Linked DNA regions of Homo sapiens. The protein of the gene in region 2 interacts with the protein of the main gene of each other region in a pairwise test. Each region holds a gene or a part of one and is shown on either strand. Other genes may lie near its edges. The genes, in order: SIM2 and EPS15L1.

What was found.
Region 1: the proteins of EPS15L1 (region 2) and SIM2 interact in a two-hybrid assay, tested with the Homo sapiens proteins (one large-scale study listed by BioGRID and IntAct).

Annotation. Positions count from the first base shown.
Region 1 is NC_000021.9:36,737,098-36,740,910, reverse strand, and holds part of SIM2 (single-minded homolog 2 long isoform), read right to left. Parts: intron 1-3,813. UniProt on the Homo sapiens protein: Transcription factor that may be a master gene of CNS development in cooperation with Arnt. It may have pleiotropic effects in the tissues expressed during development.
Region 2 is NC_000019.10:16,419,827-16,423,639, reverse strand, and holds part of EPS15L1 (epidermal growth factor receptor substrate 15-like 1), read left to right. Parts: intron 1-2,163; coding exon 2,164-2,321; intron 2,322-3,813.

The DNA.
Region 1 (3,813 bases), on a different chromosome or scaffold from region 2:
CACAAGTCTAGAAAGACACCCTTGGATGTCTGGGTCCTCAGCTCCAGAACATTCCTGCTTCTCAAGGCAGGACTGGCCCCTGGACCTAACTAGCAGCTGCCTGAGCAGAGATCTGGGGAGGTGGCCAAAGGGGCTGAGTCTGTGACTGTACCAGCTGGGGCTGAAGGAAACTCCCCAAGGTGCATTTCCAACAAAAATTCAGCCTTTGAGGCTCATATGCAACAAAAATTCAGCCTTCCTGTCATACCGCTGGGCAAAGCCCCCAGTCTCTGCCCAAACACTCCTGGGCTGTCTGTGGCCCTTTACGGTTCCTTTTCACCTTGCAGATGGCTCTTTCTCATCCACATCAAAATATTTTGGTGCAAAAGAAAATGCTGCACGGAGTTATTCACCTTAATATATAGGGGGTTCGTACAGATTGATAAAAACACAAAGACCCTAAAAGCAATATAGGCAAAGATCAAAGAATAAATATAATGGGCAAAATGATGAACAAATGCCCAACTCCCTTGTTTAACTCAAAGGCAGATCCATCCATCAGATCAACAGACATTAAAATAGAAACAAACATTGTATGATTCCCTTTACATGAAACTTCCAGAATAGGCACATCCACAGAGTCCAAAAACAAATGAGTGGGTGCCAGGGGCTGAAGCACGAGGGGGACTGGGGTGACAGGCTCCTTTTGGGATGATGAAAACGTTCTGGAATTAAAGGTGATAGTTGTTCAACACTGTGAATATAACTAAAAAACACTGAAAATGGTGAGAAAGGTGAATTTTATCTAAAAAAAAAAAAAAATGAAAGGCCAACAGGTGACACCGGCTAATCTATGGTGAGTGGCATTTTCTCTTTCTTTCTTTCTTTCTTTCTTTCTTTCTTTCTTTCTTTCTTTCTTTCTCTCTTTCTTTCTTTCTTCTCTTCTTTCTCTTTTTTTTTTTTTGAGACAGAGTCTCTCTGTGTTGCTCAGGCTGGAGTGCAGTGGCATGATCTCACTGAAACCTGCCTCCTGGGTTCAAGCAATTCTCCTGCCTCAGCCTCCCCAGTTTTGCCAGGTTGGCCAGGCTGGTCTCAAACTCCTGACCTCAAGTGGTCCGCCTACCTTGCCCTCCCATAGTTTGCCATTATGGCAAACTATGCAGCCATTGCAGGTGTGAGCCACGGCGCCTGGCCCAGTGAGAGGCATTTTCATGTGTGATGGAAGGATGAGTTGGTGGAAAGCAGTCTGATAGCTCACACCCTCTGACACACTGATCTCACTTCTAGGAATTGATCCTATGGAAATTGTGAGCAGGTCTGTGTGTGCAAACACAGACTTACCTACAAAGGGTTTCATTGCAATATTGCTGAAAATTCAGGGAAAAGGGGTGGGGAGAGACTTAACTCTTCAACGGTAGGGAAAAGAGTAAATACATTATGGCAAACTATGCAGCCATTAAAATGATGATTAATAAGAAATTGTTATATTATGGGAAATGTGTGATACAATGTTAACAGAAGAAAAGACAAGATTCAGAAATGTGTAAAGTATAACCCTAATTATGAAAAAGTGGGCACGTGCATACACTACCCCCTCCAACAAACTGTGTGATCCTAGACTAGCTACCAACCCCCCTGTGACTCAATTTCCTCATTTATAAAAAAAGGATAATCAGTCCTTACTTCATATGGTTGTTGAAAGATTAGATGATCTATTTGAGGATTTAGAACACTGGCAGACACAGCTGAAGGGCTCAATACATATTAACTTTTATCTGACTGAAAATGACAGATAATTTTCACTTTCTTCTTTTCAGCTTTCCTTGACTTTCTAAATTTCCAACGAGGAGGAGGTTTAACCAGAATGAAATGGTTTTGTTTTTTACATGGGAGAGAAGATTGTGGGGGTTGGGAGGCAGGAATCCAGTCTCCATCAAGCCCCACCACCCCGTCAGGATGAACCTGGGGACATGAGGCAGTGTTGCGTAACGAGCATGCCACCGGCTGGAGAGGGGTCTCTCCCGGACCATGCAGAGAGCAGCGCTTTTCTGCCCAGGCTTAACATCTGCATCTCAGCCGACTCAGATCACTGCTCAAGGGTATAGGCAAAGGCCATGGCAAAGAGAGAAGCCTGACAATGCTTCTCCTTTGGGGGTTTGCTTCTCTAATGAAAAGATACATGGTGTCTACTTCCAGCTCATTTCACAGGATTGCCTCATTCTACCCCCACTACAACAGTGGGAGGTGGGAGGTGGGCAGCACCAGGAAACCGGGGCCAACAGAGCTTGAGGGCACAGCTGGAGTCCAGCCCAGGTGTCCTCAAAGTGGCAGCTGTGGGAGGAGGGAGCAGCGGCCTCTGGAAAGTTCTCTATAGCTATTAGGTTGGTATAGAAGTACTTGCGATTTTTGCCATTACTTTTTTTTTGGAGACGGAGTCTTGGCTTTGCCACCCAGGCTGGAGTGCAGTGGCATGAGCTCAGCTCACTGCAACCTCCGCCTCCCAGGTTCAAGTGATTCTCCTGCCTCAGCCTCCCGAGTAGCTGGGATTACAGGCACCCACGACCACACCCGGCTAATTTTTTGTAGTTTAGTAGAGACGGGGTTTCACTATGTTGGCCAGGCTGGTCTCTAACTCCTGACCTCATGATCTGCCTGCCTTGGCCTCCCAAAGTTCTGGGATTACAGGCGTGAGCCACCGCATCTGGCTGCTATTACTTTCAAAGTAATACATTGAATAATACGTATGGGGGTGAGGTGGGCTCACCTTTTAAGGGAGACTTGGCCAATTTGTTTATGGTCCAAAATAACCAAGAGATGCAGCAGGCTCAGACTGAGGATCCATCCACGGATTTCAAGAGGACTAGTGCTCGCTAAGCTCTTCAACCTCAAAATCTATTCAAGCCCTTAGGAATATGGCCCCATGCTTTTTTCTTTTTGCTTTTTTTTTGCTTTTTTTTTTTTTTTTTTTTTGAGACAGGGTCTTGCTCTTTTGCCCAGGCTGGAGTGCAGTGGTACAATCTCGGCTCACTGCAACCTCCGTCTCCTGGGTTCAAGAGATTCTCCCTGCCTCAGACTCCTGAATAGCTGGGATTACAGGCGAATGCCACCACGCCCGGCTAAGTTTTGTATTGTTTAGTAGAGACGGGGTTTCACCATGTTGGCCAGGCTGGTCTCAAACTCCTGACCCCAAGTGACCCGCCCGCCTTGGCCTCCCAAAGTGGACATTGAAATGTTTTAATAGCTGCACATGGCCTGTGTTCTCTTTGTGGTCTGGGCTTGGCCCATTCTGGGCAGGAGCCTACCTAGAGAGCCGGGTGAAATTCTCAACAACCTTGGAAGAATAGCCATGTGGACATCACGGTTCTTCCAAACCATGGACAGCCCAGTGTCCCATGACACAAACTGTCAGGTTTACTGACACTGATCCCTTCTCCACCTATGGACCAGGCTGTGCTCAGCCCCCCCTGAGGGTCTGGGTCAACAGATCACAAGCCTTTGCCAGCTCCCCCTACATACAAGAAAAAGTCTCCCAAACATGAAACAAAGAAAGCGGGGAGGCAGAGCTCGGCTTTCCTGAGGCCAGGCTGGAGCATGGTGCCTTTAATCAGCCACCTCAGGTGGTGGGTGAGGCGTGGGGTGGGAGGGTCACAGTGGTTCCATTTATGATGATCCCGTGTTCACTTTTCTTTACAGAATGTTCTGGGGCCGGGTATGGTGGCTCATGCCTGTAATCCCAACACTTTGGGAGGTCAAGATGGGAGGATCACTTGAACACAGGAGCTTAAGCCCAGCCTGGGCAACATAGCAAGACCCCATCTTTACCAAAAACATTTA
Region 2 (3,813 bases):
GGTTGCTCTTGCCATCTGAACTCTCATCATTTGAATTAGATCCATAGATTTTTTTTTTTTAAATATATAAGAGACAGGATCTTGCTCTGCTGCCCTGGCTGGAGTGCAGTGGTGCAATCACGGCTCATTGCTATCTCAACCTCCTGGGCTCAAGTGATCCTTCCACCTCAGCCTCCCTAGTAGCTGGAATAGGTGGATGCCACCACACCTAGCTAATTTTATTTATTTATTTATTTTGTAGAGATGGGGTCTTGCTGTGTTATGCTGGCTGGTCTTGAACTCCTGGGCTTGAGGGATCCTCCTGCCTTGGCCTCCCAAAGTGCTGAGATTACAGGCATGAGCACTGTGCCTGGCCTAGCTCCATGGATTTTGATAAATTGTTTGATCAAGTCCTTGCTGTACTTCATCACACATACTTGCTACGTGAAACCCCTGAACTAAGCTGATCTGGGTCACATGGTATCCCTTGTTTCCCAAGCTTGCTTTCTGATTTCCCTGAGTTGGTATCAGGAGCCTGTTAGATTTGGACATCACAGGAGACTCGTTCATGAAGAGTAAACGAGTTTAACCATTGTTTCCCAGTCTTGACCATGAGTCCCTTCTCCTCAATCCTATGGACATCTTCGGGTTGTCAACACTGTGAGAACTCTTTGAGAAATCCCCCCCCCCTTTTTTTTTCCCCGAGACGGAGTCTTGCTCTGTCGCCCAGGCTGGAGTGCAGTGGCACAATCTCAGCTCCCTGCAACTTCTGCCTCCCAGGTTCAAGCAATTCTCCTGCCTCAGCCTCCTGAGTAGCTGGGATCACAGGTGCCTACCACCACACCTGGCTAATTTTTCGTGTTTTTAGTAGAGAGGGGGTTTCACCATGTTGGCCAATCTGGTCTCAAACTCCTGGCCTCAGGTGATCCACCCACCTCAGCCTCCCAAAGTGCTGGGATTATAGGTGTGAGCCACTGCACCCAGCCTAAGAAATCCTTTCATAACTGAGAGGAATGACTTTGAGTGGCAGTTTCAGGCATCATGGCGTTCATTGAAGGTGAGGAGTGGAGTGGCTTTTCTGTACAGTTGCTGCGTGGAGAAGGAACAATCGATCCCTCCAGCCACATTTGCCTGTCCTTTTTCTCTCCACTCCCTCATCATCTAGATAATTCAATCAGGTGTTTATTCTCATTGCTATTATGAGATTGTTTAAAAGGAGTGATTTGTGTAAATATTTAAAAAAAAAGGGAAGAGGAAAAGCACGTCTAGAGTTCAGGACACAGATGCCGTGAACTGTGGCGTGGTGGGTGTATTGAAGGCCCGCGGTAATGCAGGTGGAGTAGGCCACGGAAGGGGCCTGCCCCTGAGTGCCTGAGGGGCCTCAATGCCTCTGAACCAGGAGGTGACCGGGCCCTGGTTGACCCATGATGGCGTTTGCCTCTCTCAAGTTAACTGTGAGCTGGTGGCGAGAGGGGTCGCACGTGCAGCGGGTGACCCAGCCCCAGGGCTGTGAACTTTGAGCTGCACTGGGCTCGTGGCTCCATCTGCCCTGGTGGGGTTGGGGCTGCATGAATGTTGGTGGGGCCTCGTGGGTGGTGGCCCTCTTGGATGGTGGTGTCTCATTTGTTACCTGTCAGTGACGTGTGTGTACTCACACCTTGGGGGTATCTTTGTTGTCTCAGGAGTGGGGCAGGGACATAGAAGGGTGGTCTTCAGAGTCCTGGGACAGGACACTTTGGCTGCCTGTAGGGCAGCCTTTGCGGGCTGAGGAGTGGGAGGACCAGGGAGGCTGGCATGTGGCCGGGCCGGTTCTCCAGGGACGGTCCTTCCAAGTGGGTGCTCGGGAGGGTCTTTCCTGGCATGCTTGAACCCATCCCCTGAAGATCACAGCCTCCCTCACACCCTGGGTGGCAGGGTGGATGGACAAGGAGAGCGGGTGATGGGGTGGAGAGAGGTGCAGACTGGCATCTGGGTGAGCTTCACAGAGCCAGCCTCAACCTGTCTCAGCCTCAGTTTTGCCAGTTACAGAACAAGGATCACATCTGCCCTCTTGGCTCATGGAAGTGAGGAGAGTTTGATGCCAAATGTGCATGGAAGTGCTTTAATCGCCCCATCATCAAAAAGCATGTGTCTGGGGGTCATAAAAAGCTTCCAGATTAACTGTTTTGCCAAAAACTGTTTCAGCCAACAGTGAACTGGGTGGTGCCCGTGGCAGACAAGATGCGATTTGATGAGATATTCCTGAAGACCGACCTGGACCTGGATGGCTACGTGAGTGGCCAGGAGGTGAAGGAGATCTTCATGCACTCGGGCCTCACCCAGAACCTTCTAGCACACATATGGTAAGGCCGGACAGGTGGCAGTTGTGGCTGTGGGTGGCTCCAGGGGGCCTGTGGGTGAAGACTGTGGAGGGTGGTGGTCAGGGGGCCCCCTCCAGCCTGTCACAGGCTTCCGCTGTGTCTGGCGTCCTTTATTCTCCCTGGCCTGACAGAGGCTGAGCAAGGTGCACGTGCCAAGGCTCGAAGCCCGCGCTCCGTGACGGTCAGTTCACTGTCTTTCAGTAGGAAGGGCCTCTGGTCCGTCTTAAGTGCTCCCAGGCCATTTGCTTACACAGCTGGGCCCTATTCTTGCTGGCTGTGATGCTGGCTCTAACAGGAGGCCTGGACTTTGTCACAGCCGCCTCCGGGAGGTGCGGGCAGCAGGGCCTTGGAGCCTCTAGCAGAGTGGCCTGGCAGGGTGAGGGCGGGGGCAGGAGGCCCTGCTCTGGAAAGGCCAGTGCTTTGGCTCCTGGCGGGAGGGTGAGCACAAGGAGACCCTGTCAGTGCCTCAGAGCCCAGTCGAGGAGTCGGCCTCAACCCCTCTTTCCCCCAGGGCTGGACACAGCCGACTTCATAGGGCTGGGGCACTCCTCTTGCCACTGGCCAGGGCTGAAGTCACTTTTGAGCTTGTTGCTCAGAGCCTTGTGGCCTTAGAGAAGGCTTCACTTGGGAGCTATCAAAAGGAAAGAATTGCTGGATAATTCTCGAGAGGCAAATACCTCCAAGTAGAGCAGTGAAATTCAGGATGTTACTTAGTGGCTTGGGGGAAATGACTGTCCTTAGTGGTAATTCACAGATGACCACACTGTGAGGTGGGAGCCTGAGAACTAGCTGTCGCAGAGTCATCACCCAAATGGCCAAGCCGCCTCCAACTGGCTAGGGACAGTGGGTCTCAGCTGCCTCAGATCCAGTGTCCCTTTTAGAAACCAACAAAACACAGTGTCCCCTTTATGACTCTGAAACCAACACACATACAGTTCCTGGTTAGCGCCCTGACACCCTGACTGTCATGTCTAGGGGTCAGTAGAGGGAAAGTAATTTATAATGCATGCTGCAATTGACACATGATGTAATGACATGGAAATGACACAGGAAATCACTAATCCACCTGGATCAAAAGAAGGAACTCAGAGGTCATTCCATGCGGGCAGCAAAGGGGAAGGAAAGGATGATCAGGCTCTTGAATAACCATGAGAAAAGAAGTCTAGATGTGTCTGCGAGTGGCTGGGGCGGGGCATGGCCCAATGTAGATGACACACCAGGAGGGACTGGGAGGAGGGGGAGCATGAAGACAGAGGCTTTTTCCCTGCGATGGCTGCCACCGTACGGGTCAGCAGAGCAGGATGTGGTGTCAGAGCCGGATGGCCGCTGACTGAGCCACCCCTAAGCTTGCTTCTCCTTCTTTCTCTCAGAACCTTCCACAGGTGGGCCTTGGAGCCCACACTCCTTGAGAGATGGCAGGAGCAGAGAAGGGGCGGGAGTGGAGAGGCAGCTGCAGCCCACGAGCAGGCTGGGG